Linked DNA regions of Homo sapiens: region 2 is linked to region 1. The links come from fine-mapping of genetic effects on gene expression. Tissue or cell type: left ventricle. Region 1 holds a variant in brackets; the other region holds the start of a gene. All regions are shown on one strand. Distances are between the middles of the regions.

Region 1 (7,693 bases):
CAACAAACTGTGTTTTTCTAAATATACTAGAGGATGTGACCCTGAAGGGCCGTAAGAAAAACGGAATCTTGTACCCTGCCATTCTAGTTGATTACAATATACTTAACAACACAAAAGAAAAAAACACATTACATGATGAGAAACATTGACTCTGAGAGCCATTAGTTTAGAGTGAGGGCTAGAGGAGGCTTTTCACTGAGGCTGTCCTTTGTTAGTACAGCATCTTTGTTGGTGATGGTTTCATTTCTTTAAATTATTACATAAAATCTGATGTATATAAAAGAATCTGTATCAATTTAAATAAGTTATAAAGAGTAATACTAAATGAGCCTTTATGAACCCATCACCGCATTCAAGACCCAGAACATCATCAATGTTCGTACCTCTACTATCTGCTCCTACCTTATCCCATCTCTGTCTCCCCAGTACTATTCTGAATTTTGGGTTCACCTTGTTTTAGGATCTATCATGTGTGTATGATTCCTAAGAATGTGTTGTGTAGTATTGCTTTTTTTTGGGCTTTATAAAAATGATACCCAACTGCATGAAGTTTTTGGTGATTTTGTTAATAATATGCATCTGTGTTCTTGCATAGAGAAATGGTTAATTCATTTTTACTCTGTTGAAATAATAATTAATACCAAATTTATTTATCATTTTTCCATCAATGGACAATTAGATTATTTCAGAATTTTTGTATTATGAACCATGTTGCTATGGCCATTCCTAAGGAGAGTTCCTGCTTCACATGTAGGAGTATTTGTCTAGGTGATATACCTAGAAATAAAGTTGCTAGGTCATAGGGTATGCAAAATGTTCAACTTCACAAGACAGTACTAAATTTTCTTTTCCAGAATGGTACCAATTTGTACTCCTATCAATAAAGTATGAGTTCCTATTGATCCACATTCATACAATAGTTGGAATTATCAGATCTCATGATGTATTTTCATCTTTGTACACCAAAGATAGTATTTTGCCTCATCATAGAAGGGACATAAAAATGTCAGCAAGTGCTAAAAAGTTTTGTCAGCATAGCTTACTTCAAGGTTACACAGAAGGTTATACAGAGGCTGAAACAAGAGTTTCAATGTAGGTAGTTTGTTTGGGGAAGTGATACTAGGGAATAGAAGTAGGAAATTCAGGAAAGGAAAAGAAGAGAGAAAACCAATACGGGAGTGTATTTTTGAGTTGGTCACAACTGTAAACAACTAGGGCGTAATCCTACTTAGTTAGACCCTCTGAGAATCTCTTGGAAACAAACACTATTAAAAGGCAATTGAGAATTATCAGGCCAAGGATGGAGGAGGGACTATTTATCTTAGGTTCCCATCTCACATTGGTCAAGGGTTGGCTCTTGGGCCTTTAACTCCCTCACATTCCATAACACACATGTGTGGGTACAAGAGTGTTCCAACAGGCCTTCCTGTTGAAACATCAAAGAAGTCCTGGAGTGAGAAGTGAGATATTTGCTGTGAGGCTAAGGCAAGGCACTCTCTGGTTTTACCCACATAAAGCTGGTTAATGGACTAACGGCTTAATTAAATGGTAGGCTATAAGGCTGTGCAGTGAGGCACAAAAGATGTCCAATAGACATAGCTAGTAAGTGGCAGAGATGAAACTCAAACACATGTATCTATCACAGATCAAATATTAGGTACTTGGTATATAGCATGAAAACACTGTCCACTGCCTACCAATAGCCAACTCTACCTTTCATCTCTGCTGACAGAATGCCAATTGGTTTCAATAGCAGACAAAGATCTCTGTGGTAGAGCTGGCACAGTAGCTCCATGGTGCCACCACAGGCCCAGATTTCTTCTACCTTTCTGTTCCAGCATCTTTAATGCTAGCTTACATCCAGTCAGTCACTCCATGGTCCAAGATGGCTCCAGGCATCATGCCTGCATTCAAGACTAACAGCAGGAGGAAGAAGGGGGAGGTACAAAAGGGCCCTCCTCCCAGCCAAGTCAAATCCCTTTAAGCAGGCTTCCTAGAAGTACCACACAACACAATTACCTCTCACTGGTGGAACTCAGTCATAGGTTCACACCTTGATACAAGGGATGCCAGGAAATAGAAACTATTTGCTAGATACATCATTACCAGTAATAAAACTGGTATTCTGCCACTAAGGGAGAAGGTGGGAATAGATATTGCATGGCAACTCAAAGTCCCTGCCACAATAGTCATTTGATTTAGAGCAGGTTTTTAATATACATATATCAGTCTTCTTATTTGTAAAATGGAAATTAACATGACTACCTCACAAAGTTGTTATGAGGAAAAATAAGATAATATAAATAAAATTGCACAGTGGCTGGTATGCAGAAAATACTTAATAAATGCTAGCTGGTATTAATTCACTTCGATGAGTCATCAGCATCAGGGCCTAGCTTTGAGCCAACCCCCAGATAACTGATCTTTATCAGTGTCCCTGTATTTATTAGGTTTGAGGGTGTTGGGTGCTGACTCACACCCACAACACTCATAAGTGTTTAAAGCTAGAGTGGCGGCTTAGTAATTTACAATGGGAGATATAACTGTCAGGGAGACCAGACACTCTGACCAGGTTATTCTCACCCTGAAGGCAATGAACATGTGGCATCCTAAGGCTGACTGCTGAGCATGAAGTCAGGAGAAACAGAATTAATTATACAGTTCAGATCTTTAACGGCATTGGGCTTGTTGTATCCATCTCCACAATTGGGCTTCTGTTATCTGGTGGTCAGAAGCTCAGGCTAGAAACATGACAGGTAACCTCTTCCCATTGACAGTGCTGGGAGGTGCATTACTGGAAAAATTCACCAAGAATGTGGAACATGTGGGAAAGCTATGAGGGTAAACTCAAAACAGTTATGGCATAGTAAATCTATTCTTAATAGAAGCCCTATACATCTGGCATAACTTTGGAAAAGTTGTAAGGGAAATACTTTAGCAAGACCCATTCTTTAGATAATAGGCCCAGAGTAAATGGGGCAGCTAGAAACCTGATTACATCTTTGTTTAAAATACTTATTGGATTACAAGTTGAATACCTTTTTAAGTTTAAAATAGAAATATTTTCACTGTTTCATATGGAGATATAAATAGAGCTTTAAGAACAATTTAAAATAACATAAAATGCTTTAAATTAAGCAAATAGAAAATCATAACCTGTGTGTATACAATATACATGTACGTATATGTATGTGTGTGTATATATATCACCTATATATAGCACATATATATATATCAAATTTTCTAATAACAGTAACAAAATGTGAATTTTACCGATTTAATTCTATGAAGTCAGGTAAAATATTTTCTTCATATCCAATAATTTTGGGGAGGGGATACTCTTTGATGTAGCTCACTGTTGGTCTCGTGTAGAAACAATTGTGTGATTAAATTAGAAATAATTTAAAATTAATGTTTTAGGGGGGAAATTTGCAATGCCCCATGAAATCTCTAGAATGGTTAATCCTTTAAAAATCGCATATGAGAAGTATGCAACCAATCTCATAAAATCAGCTTTGAGCTTCTAGAAGAGCAAGCTGCAAAATAGCTCTATGATTGGAGAACAAACATGAATAGAGACTAATGGGCTGATGTGTAGCCTCTGTATTTATTCACTTCTATTTGTATGAGATTAAAAGAAATCCCAATACAGCATTTTCTCCCACTTTCTCATCCTTCGTCCTATTAACAGAAAAAGTAATTATGCTTGGCAAAAAGAAAAATGTAATGCTGGCCGGGCACAGTAGCTCACACCTGTAATCCCAGCACTTTGGGAGGCCGAGGCAGGCAGATCACTCGAGGTCAGGAGTTCAAGACCAGCCTGGCCAACATACTGAAACCTCGTCTCTCCTAAAAATATTTTTTAAAAAATTAGCTGGGTATGGTGGCAGACACCTGTAATCCCAGCTACTCGGAAGGCTGAGGCAGGAGAATCACTTGAACCTGGGAGGCAGAGGTTGTAGTGAGCTGAGATGGCGCCGCTGCACTCTATCCCGGGCAACAGAGTGAGACTCTGTCCAAAAAAAAAAAAAAAAAGTAATGCTATCAGCAATTAGAATTACAAACTTCACATACAATGATGTATGTAATGACCCTGACTCATCCAATACCATAAAGTCTCAAAATGTCAGAGATACATGGTTTGCAATGTATCATCCCTACACCAGCAGCATCAACATCATCCAGGAACTTGTTAGAAAGGCAAATTCTTGGGCTCTACCCCGACACCTATGGAATCAGAAATTCTGGGGCTGGATCATAACAATCTGCTTTTAACAATTTCTCCAGGTGATTCCGATGTCCATTAAAGTTTGAGAACCACTCATCTAGACAGAACCATGCTACTTCAAGTATGATCTGTAAACTGGTAACATTGAAATCACTAGGGGCTTGTTAGAACTGCAGAATCTCAGACCCCACCTAGACTTATTGGATTAGAATCTAAATTTTAATAAGGCCTCCAGGTGACTGGTGCGCACATTAAAGTTTGAGAAATGTTGTACTTGTCCAATGGTTTCTTTCATGGGCTGAATTGTGTCTCCC[C/T]CAAATTCACATGTTGAAGTCCCAGCCTTCAGGGGCTCTAAATATAACTATTTGGAGATAAGGCCTTTGATGAGGTAATCAAGTTAAAATTAGCTCTTTAGACTAGGCCCTGACACAATATATGACCAGCATCCTTATAAGAAGAGATTAGGACACAGACATTCACAGAGAAAAGACTGTAGTAAAGATACAGGGGGAAGATGGTCAGGTGCAAGTGAAGGAGAGAGGCCTCAGGATCAACCAACCCTTGATCTTGGACTTCCTGCCTCCAGAACTGTGAGAAGAAACATTTCTGTTGCTTAAATCACCCAGTCTGTGGTCCTTTGAATGGCAGCCCTAGCAAACTAATATAGTTTCCAAACTCAGGCACATGTTGGAGTCATCTAGGGAGTTTTTAAAATATTGATACCTGGGTTCCATTCCCAGAGGTTCCAATTTAAGTGGTCTGAGGATCAGCTCATAAATCTTGATTTTAAAAACCTCTCCAGCCAGGCATGATGAATCAGGCTTGTAATCCCAGCACTTTGGGAGGCTGAGGCGGGTGGATTACCTGAGGTCAGGAATTGGAGACCAGCCTGGCTAACATGGTGAAACCCCGTCTCTACTAAAAATACAAAAATCAGCCGCGTGTGGTGGCAGGTGCCTGTAATCCCAGCTACTTGGGAGGCTGGGGCAGGAGAATCGCTTGAACCTGGGAGGCAGAGGTTGCAGTGAGCTGAGATCACGCCATTGCACTCCAGCCTGGGCAACAACAGTGAGACTCCATCTCAAAAAAAAAAATAAAAACAGAAAACAAACAAACAAAAAAACCTCCCCAGGTAATTTTTAATGTGCAACAAAGTTTGAATACCACTGCTAATCTACTCCAGGGGTGTCCAGTCTTTTGGATTACCTGGGCCACACTGGAAGAAGAATTGTCTTGGGCCACACATAAAATACACTAACACTAATGATAGCTGATGAGCTAAAAAAAAAAAATTGAAAAAAAATCTCATAATGTTTTAAGAAAGTTTACAAATTTGTGTTGAGCCACATTCAAAGCTGTCATGGGCTGCATGTGGCCTGCAAGCCACAGGTTGGACAAGCTTGATCTACTCCATTCTTTTCATTGATGAGAAATCTAAGACAATTGTAATCATTAAATTTCAATCTCTCGATACTTGCTTATCTGATCTCCCACCATGATGTCCAAAAACTACCTTCTGTAAGTATTTGAGAGAATATTCTACTGGAAAAGAGAAAGTTAAATCAAAGCGGGCAATAATATACACTCTTTTCATGCTTCAACTTTTTAAGTTTTAGTGTGTGTGTGTGTGCTAGGGACCATTTTGAACTGTGTGTGGGGGAGGGGGGCAGTAGTACATCTTCCCCAGTACAGGTATAGAGAAGGTCCCCAAAGATAATCTGTTGAACCAAGTTGTCAGTGCCACTACCTCTCCCTAGGTTCTTCTTTTCCCTCTTGTTAAGTTTCCCTCCAGGCTCCTAGGATCCAAATTAAAGACATTCAGATGCTGTAAACCAGCCTTCCAAGGCATTGGCAGCAAACCACTCATCAGTTTTTTTTCCTCACTAAATCCTTTCCCATGTCCCTGTGAAGTTTTGAAGCTCCCAAACTCAACACTCCACTCAAAGGACAACTATTTACTGAATATTTACTCTTTTCCAGGAACTTGAGGGTTTGATCCATACTTAATAGAAACCCTATGAGATTACACACACACACACACAGGCAAGGTGCAGTCTCTAAAAGTTAGCACACTCCATAAAAGTGATTTGGCACCCTTAAAATACCATATACCCATGTGGAGAGGGGAAATCTGCTCTAAATGTGTGCTTTTGCTACATTGATTAATATTTAGTATTTTACTTGGCCAGAACATTGATACGATCACAGGTTCAAAAAGACTTATTTTCTTGACAGTCTAGAAGACTTTCTGGTCAGTTCCCCAAATACATCACCTACCTGCCTCTCCCTGGCTGCCTTTCCACTATAGAAGCTGAAAAAACGGATACTTTCCCAGTCTCCTTTGCCACTAAGGGCAGCTATGTGCCCCAGATATTGCCAATGAGATAAAAGTAGGATTCTGTTAGATAAATTTGGGGAAGGATATTTTTTCTCTGATGAGAAAGTTGCATGAGGAAAAATACTCTGACCTTTTCCACCCCGTTTCCTGTCATTGAACATGGGATTAGGACCGAGTGTCTTGAGCTGTTAGAGCCATCTTGAAGCCATGAGGGTAAGACACTGACTCAGAACCCTGATATTGTTGGGTCACTGTATCAACTCCAGTTATTACCTACTGTCAGCCTTCTCTATTTTCTTTGTTTTTTTTTTTTTTCTTTAGAGACAGGGTCTTACCCTGTCACCCAAACTAGAATGTAGTGGTGCAATCATAGCTCACTGCAGCTTTAAAATCCTGGGCTCAAGGGATCCTCCCACCTCAGCCTCCTGTGTAGCTGGGACCACAGGCACATGCTACTGCGCCCAGCTAAACTTCTGTAGTATTACAAGCCATGTTTAGTTGGCTTTTCTGTTACTTTCAGCAAAAAAATAAAAAATAAAAAATAAAAAATTAAATATTAAAGTTCACAACAATATATAGATTTTTTCAAATATAGAAAACTCTCATTTATTTAGAACACAGTGTATTCTGAGGATCCACACTTTGAGTACCATTGAATTAAATGACTTATCTTTTAGGAGTGAAGAGAAAGAATGCACAGGTGGATTTCAAGGAATGGTAAACCTAATCTGGACTGCCAAATTATTTTATTCATTCATTTTTTTTCAACAGACCTTACTTTACTAGGCTCCAGGGATACAAAGATTAATAAGGCATTACCCTTGCTTCCAAATAAATTTTATTACTCTAAGCAAGATGGATATGTAAACCTAGAATCATAAGGTGGTAAGAGCTAAGATAGAGGTATGTAGAGTAGAGGAGTTATGTTATCAGAGAAGTGGGAAGCTTAACGGCTCCCCGGGGACGACATTGGAAGAGGATCATGGAAGCTTCCACTCAACTCTAAAAAATTATTCCTGTGATCTGACTAAACATGTAAGGTTTTATTAATTTTATTTCAAGGAGGGTTCTTTTCTATAATTATAGGTTATAAAACAAATGACAATTCAAGAAAGATCGGGGACTAA
Region 2 (7,693 bases), 96 kb before region 1:
GTTTATTCTTATGTAAATGGTAGTGGCGATGATGTTGATGATGATGATGTTCATCTCATGAGGTTCTTGTGAAGATTAAATGAGTTAAAAAATTTAAGGCACTTAGAACAACCCTTAGAATATTCTAAGTATTATTATTATTTTTCTTTCTGACATGAAACAATCAAACAAACTAATCTCCAAGTGTATTAGTAAAAATACACACTTTGGGCAATAATCCTATAAATTGTGAGGAATGACATTTCTAAGGGCCCTTGTCCTCTGAAATGCAATAAGCATATGACTGTTAAAGAGACGGATTTCTAGAATATAGAGGACAGTTGAGTCAGCTTTCTCAACATTTGGACATTTATTTGGATACTGACATTTTGATTCCATGATATACTGACATATTTCACAACACAAAAGGGCAATCTAACATTTGTTCTTCTTTAACAAAAAGAAAATGTGTCTGAAAGACTGTTATCCCCATTTTTGTGCCCCGAATGGTCGCTCAGAACGTTCATACCTCCATCATTTGCTCAGTTCTGCCCCAAATGGCAAGATCATTCTTTTTTTTATCTGAATCATGAGGGATTCATCTAGGTACATGTGTCCAGTCTGTAGCTCTGTGCTTGCATCCTTGCTGTACCTAATCCCCATCTGGTGGCTCAGTTCTAATACCTGGCTTTCACCTCGTAACCACACTTAGCCTCATAGGCCCCTACCACCTCTTCCACATTTGCAGAGCACTTACTATGAGCTAGGCACTATTTTAAGTATTTTACATTTACTAAACGTTCTAATCCTACAACACTCTTATCAGTAGAAACTATTGTTATCCCCAATTGACAGTGAGGAAACTCAGCAACAGGAAAGCTAACTAAGTTTTCTCAATTTCATGCAGCTGGTAAGTAGCAGAGCTGAGATTCAAACTCAGGTCATCTGACTGCAGAGTCAACACTCTCAACCCCTGCACAATATGATTTCAATAGTTAAGACCTGGGGTTTTGGTCTCTGCTACTGAGTTATTCTTCCAGCAACAAATCTTACTTTAATATCTATATAGTTCTTCATAGTTCAAAATGATTTCCTCTCCATGACTATATTTGTTCCTGTGGCCACTATATGAGATAGAATGAGTCTGAGGAAACTGTGGTTCACAGAGAGTGCACAGGGGGCAGTGAATGGTAGAATCAAAACTTAAACCTGGCTCTTTGGCTATGTTCTTTTCACTACCCCAATGATTCTGGGGCTTAGAAAAAGAAGATATCCATGAGGTGTGGACTTTCTGATGGAGATGGGGCCTGACCAAAACCTTGAATTGTAGGTAGCTCTTAGACTGAGGGAAAAAAGGATGAGAAAATAGAGAATAAAAGAAAAAAATAACAGAAAAGGGAGATGAGAGAGGATGGCTTCTAGATACATTATAATTAAAGAAATGAATGGACTTGGTAGTGGTTTGGATATTGAGAGCAAAGGAAAAGTTAGAAGCAAAATTGACTCCAAGATTTCAAATGTGAGAAACCAAGAGATCATTAATGCCATTCACAGAAACAAATGAAATGAAAGGGGAAGTGGTTTGACATAAAAGCTGTGAGTTTGGCTACAATCATGATGAATGTCGAGTGACCCTTGGACATACAAGTGGGAAAATGTATAGCAGATGGAAAAGATAAGATGTGGAAATGGAAGTCTTGGAGGTATCCACTTAGAGGTGATATTTAAAACTAAGGGTTGATAAGAAGTTATAGAGAAAGGCAAAACGTAATAGGTTATAGGCTAAATAAATGCTAAACCTTTGAGGGAAACCCAAACTTAAGGAAGAGAAAAGGAAAAATAGACAAGAAGGGAAGTGGTAGAAAAGCAGTTGAATAAATAGTATAGAGTCATGGACAAGAAGGAAAGAGAAAATTTAAGAAGTAGGAATTGATCATGTGTGTCACATAGAGCCAAGGGGATGAATAAAATGAGAATTTGGAAAAGTATTCCTTATAGCCCTTATCACACTTGTAATGAATTATTTGGGTGAGTTAACACCCTTCCTAACTAGACTGGAGATATATAAAGGCAGACTTAAGTGTTCCCTACTGTAACTTCAGTGCTCAGCAATGCCTGATGCATAGCTGTCACTAAATAAATATTTATTGAATGGATGAATGAATACATAAATAAATGAATGTACTTGAATTTCCTAGCAGCACTACAGGTGACCCTTGGAAGTACAGTGTCAATAAAGTGATGAAGATTGATTTTATGTCATAGGGGAATTTGAAAGAAAGATTTTAAAAGAGAAAGTGAGGCAGTAGGGTATGTTTTATTAATCACTTCTTAGAGAAATGTTTTTGTTAAAAGGAGAGAGAGACCAGATCAAGTGAATTTTTTATCCCAGTACACTACATGTTTATTATATTTTGTTCCTCTAGGAGCTCCTCCCTATTTTAGATAATCTTTCAGAACCTAAGGTAACCACAGCGGTTGCTAACTCTGCAAGTAACAGAAGCACCATCTGCTTTTTTGCTGTCTTCAGTAAAATCAAAAGTCCATGGGCTAAGCAAGATGGAAGATGTAGAGAAACAGAGGTCAAAGGAAATGATGATACTCCCCACAGAAAGAGATAACCAGGAATGGAACGAGGTTGGAGAGAAGTTTTGTGAAATCATGGAAAATGTGTGAATGTATATAGAGGGGTGAGAGAGAAAGAGGATGAGAGACCACAGACAAGTAAGATATGAATGTACAAAAGCATATTTACAAGTAGATTTTAAGTAGAATGTATTAAAGATGATTAGCTAAGTGCTTACGCAGGATGGCAAAATAGTCATAAGATACATCATCATATAATAGAGCTTAAGTAAAACGAACTGCTCATTTTACATATTAAAGCTACATTTCCTTTTCCTTCCCTTAACATACTAAATAATAATAAGGAAGTAATTTCAACAAAAATACTAAATGGGCCTCCAAAAGAAAAGAGGTAGAAGCTCAATAATTTTATTCACTAAACCTATCAGAAGACTTTAACAAATCTGAATAAATAGAAGGATAACATAGCTAATACCCAAACTTAAAATAGCAAAGAATTTCAGGAAATCATAAATACATAGAAAAAGCATGATTCAACAACTAAAAGAGCAGTAAGACATTTTCTCAGTTATTAGTTGCCCACATGTAAATATGCATGTATATGTGGGTATGTACATATATATACTGAGGGATGCAAGGACCAATTTAAGGATTTCACTAGAGTCCAAACAAATGGCTTCATGCATTTAAGACCTAGGGTATGAATTGTAACACTTTTGTGTGTAAGCTGTTGTCCAAATAACATATAAACAACTTATTACAAAATGAAAAAATTATATACTTAATTCCTGTGTTTAAAATACTTTTTAAGGAGGCTACTACTGAAGTAGTACTTCTAAATGCATTATTACATGTAAACAATATTTTATACTATTTTGAATGCTATAAATATATAACTCCTGTTTTCTCCAGGCATATGCTTTTCTCCAGGCATACACATATACTTGGAGCAAAGAGAAGTTATATATTAATAGTTGTAAAATTACGTTTTTCATTTAAATGAGGAAGACAGTATTGGTAATTAAAACAATCTACATTAAGGAGAAATTTTTTAAACCCTGATGCATCTTTTCAGAGTATATTAATGTTCACAGTTAATATCGCATTTCTGTAAGCTGTTACAGTATCATATTCATGTTGAAATTATTCCAGGTTTTTCAGACTTTATTAATCCTTCTACTGAATTTATATCCATACTGGATATTTGTCCATATCAAAAATGGAACTGAATGTAAAAACAATTAAATAATTCCAAATGAAACATCTAAATTTTCTAATAAATGAAAGAAATTCAGAGCAAAAGGACAATCTATGTTATATAGAGATGTGAGAGGTTTATATAGAGAGGTGTGAGAGATTTATAGCAAAATGATGCAACACTTCTGCTGTGAATTTGATTTTTTTATGTCACTAGAATGCATATTTGTTCCTGGAGGCACTCACTCTTCAGTAGAACCTAGTGCAATGCTTCACTTCATAGATAGAATCAAGTGTTAATAACAAAAAGATACTTATATTTCTCTCCTCAATCCATTAAACTCATAGCTACCAATGGCCAAAATGTCCCTTCTGTACATATTTCTCCCTTTTTTACTGTAAAATACAATATCAAATGGTGGAAGGAGCTGTTTTCTTCCTGACCAGCAAATCCCACTACTCCCCTACCACACACAAAATACAGAAATTAAGAAATCAGATATCACACTGGAGATCCCTAAACGCATTAGTCTTACCTTAATCTGAAGGTTAGAATGTTTTTATGGGCTTATTTTTCTCTCAAACACACAAACTGTAGAATGCTGGACTACTTGACCCTTGTGAACTACTTGGAGCAGGAACTTGAAAAACCAGCCTCTCATATTCCCACAATCTATTTACACATTGAACACACCCAGTAGCACAGAGTAATGTTTATCTGTTGCAGACAGCTATTTCAAGAAGAAGGCAGTATCTCTAAAGCTGAGCTTTCAAAAAGGAATGTCTCTGTTGATCAGCAGGGGAAAGGTAACAGGTTTCATCTAAAGCACATTTTAAACATTTTTTGACATGAGGTATTTTTTACACCAGTGTTTTAAAGGTGATTCACTCTTTTAATATTCTTCTACCCCTGAAAATCTCTATTCTTAAAAAACCTGGGAGAAACGTGATAACAATGAACACATATGTGCCAGGCACTGTTGTAAGTGCTTTACATATATCCTCTCCAATAATTCTCCAAATGTGTTAGGTGTATAATATTATTATCCCCATATTACAAATGAACAAACTAAGTAGTCTGCCCACAGTCACCCAGTTAGTAAGTACTGGAGTCAAAAGTTAAATCCAGGCACTCCATAACCATAGTCCAGGTATCTAATCATAGCACTGTGCTATGTATGTATGACTTTTAGAAGACAAATGTGTAACAGTATGTGATTGCTCAGCTGAACATTAGAGAATGAGTGAGGTTTTCTCAGTGCTTGTATGGTACTGAATCTTTAGTTGAAGTAAGTGAAATTTTTGTTAAGATCACTTCTGCCAAGGTGATTACCCATTTATGTTACCATAGCCAGGTCCCTTTTAGCTACAGTGGGGAACCCCAAAGGTGGTGTCCTGGAGAATCGAAAACGTGAGTCTAGCTTGAAGTACCAAGAGAGTTATTACTTTCTTATGTTAAAAAACTCATACAAAAGAAGTCAATACAACACCTTTAAAAAGTTTAGAGATACATGTTTTGTTCCATTTTTTTCAGATTGGATGATTACTTTTGATCTGTCTTCAAGCTCATTTGATGCTAGCCATCTCCAAACTAATGTGAGCCCATCTAGTGTGTTATTAATTTCAGTTACTATAATTTTTTAAGCTCTAAAATTTCCATGTGGTTATTTTTATAGTTTCCATTTCTCTGCTGAAATTCACTATCTGTACATTTATAAAGATCATATTTTCCTTTCATTCTTTGAACCTATTTTCTGTTTGTTCTTTGAATACATAATAATTGATTTAGTCTTTTTCTATGAAGTTTAACAACTGGACATTTTTGGGTCTGTTTCTACTGATTTTATGACAATAGGTGATATTTTCTTGTTTCTTTGCATGTTGAATTTTTTTATTGCATATTGGACAATGGGGATCATATAGTGTAAAGACTCTGCTATCTCCCTCTGAGGAGTATTAATATTTGTTCTATTAATATTGGCATTTCCATAGAATTGGTTTGGTTTTGCTAATGTAGTTATGCAGAAAGTCTAAGGTCCTTTCCAAGCCTGATGAATTTGGGAGATCAACCTACAAATTCTGTCTCCCCTGCAGATCTTGTAAGGGCTGAGTTTTAGGATTTTTTATTTGTAATTTTTATGGAAAAATAGTAGGTGTATATATTTATGAGTTACAGAGATATTTTGATACAGGCTTGCAATATATAAAGATCACATCAGGGTAAATGGGGTATCCATAGCCTCAAGCAATTATCCTTTGTGTTACAAACAATACAATCATACTGTCTTCATTATTTTAAAATGCACAATTAAATTATTATTTTTACTATAGTCACCCTGTTGTACTAAGAAATACTATGTCTTATTCATTCTTTCTATTTTTGTACCCATTAATCCTCCCTACTTCCCCCCAGCACCTCACTACCCTTCCCAGCCTCTGGTAACCATATTTCTACTCTCTATCTCCATGAGTTCAATTATTTTCATTTTCAGCTCCCACAAGTAAGTGAGAATATGCAAAATTTTTTTTCTGTGTCTGGCTTATTTGACTTAACATAATGACCTTCAGTTCCATCCATGTTGTTGCAAACGACAGAATCTCATTCTTCTTTATAGATGGTAGCACTCTATTGTGTATATGTACCACAGTTTCTTTATCCATTCATCTGTTGATGGACATTTATATTGCTTCCAAATTTTGTCTATTGTAAATAGTGCTGCAGTAAACATGGGAGTGCAGATATCTCTTGAATATACTGATTTCCTTTCTTTTGGGTATATACTCAGGAGTGGGATTGCTGGATCATATGGTAGCTCTATTTTGAATTTTTTGAGGAACCTACAAACGGTTCTCCATGCGATTGTACTATTTAAATCTAAGACCTCAAACTATGAAACAACAAAAACAAAACATTGGGAAACCTCTCTAGCACATTTGACTGGGCAAGGATTTATTGAGTAATACCCCACAAGCACAGGCAACCAAAACAAACAGTGACAAATGGGATCACATCAAGTTAAGAAGCTCCTGCATGGCAAGGAAACAATCAACAAAGTGAAGAGCCAACCTACAGAGCAGGAGAAAATATTTGCAAACTACCAATCTGACAAGGGATTAATAACCAGAATATATAAGGAGCTCGAATAACTCTATAGGGAAAAATATAATGATCTGATTTAAAAACTGGCAGGGGATCTCAATAGACATTTCTCAAAAGAAGACATACAAATGGCAAAAAGGCATATGAAAAGGTGCTAAATATCAGTGATCATCAGAGAAATGCAAATCAAAACTACAATGAGATGTCATCTTACTCCAGTTAAAATGGCTTATACCCAAAAGAGAAGCAATAACAAATGCTGGTGAGGATTTGGAGAAAAGGGAACACTTGTACACTGTTGGTGTGAATACAAATTAGTACAACCACTCTAGAGAACAGTTTGAAGGTTCCTTTAAAAACTCAAAATATGAACTTAAAGTAGTTTTTTCCAATTCTGTGAAGAAAGTCATTGGTAGCTTGATGGGGATGGCATTGAATCTATAAATTACCTTGGGCAATATGGACATTTTCACGATATATATTCTTCCTACCCATGAGCATGGAATGTTCTTCCATTTGTTTGTATCCTCTTTTATTTCATTGAGCAGTGGTTTGTAGTTCTCCTTGAAGAGGTCCTTCACGTCCCTTGTAAGTTGGATTCCTAGGTATTTTATTCTCTTTGAAGCAATTGTGAATGGGAGTTCACTCAGGATTTGGCTCTCTGTTTGTCTGTTATTGGTGTATAAAAATGCTTGTGATTTTTGTACATTGATTTTGTATCCTGAGACTTTGCTGAAGTTGCCTATCAGCTTAAGGAGATTGCCAAGTCAATCCTAAGCCAAAAGAACAACACTGGAGGTATCACGCTACCTGACTTCAAACTATACTACA

Which allele goes with the higher level. Alleles are on the strand shown, and positions count from the first base shown. SD is a standard deviation of normalised expression in the study named.
In carriers of allele T in region 1, the expression in left ventricle of the gene that starts at base 4,414 in region 2 tends to be higher than with C alone (large effect, 1.0 SD a copy in GTEx).

What was found. PIP is the estimated chance that this variant, and not a neighbour inherited with it, causes the effect.
Region 2: it holds the start of SYTL5, and the variant in region 1 is fine-mapped to the expression of SYTL5 in left ventricle (GTEx, PIP above 0.99). The same link has a PIP of 0.9 or more in atrial appendage.

Annotation. Positions count from the first base shown.
Region 1 is chrX:37,907,310-37,915,002 of GRCh38, reverse strand. It overlaps a transcript of SYTL5 not described here. Among named protein-coding and RNA genes, the nearest start is that of DYNLT3, 64 kb to the right of the region's middle. The variant C/T (reference allele first, on the strand shown) is at 4,543.
Region 2 is chrX:38,003,274-38,010,966 of GRCh38, reverse strand. It overlaps SYTL5 (synaptotagmin like 5), which reads right to left and starts at 4,414. Exons shown (of 17, transcript NM_138780.3): 1 at 4,299-4,414.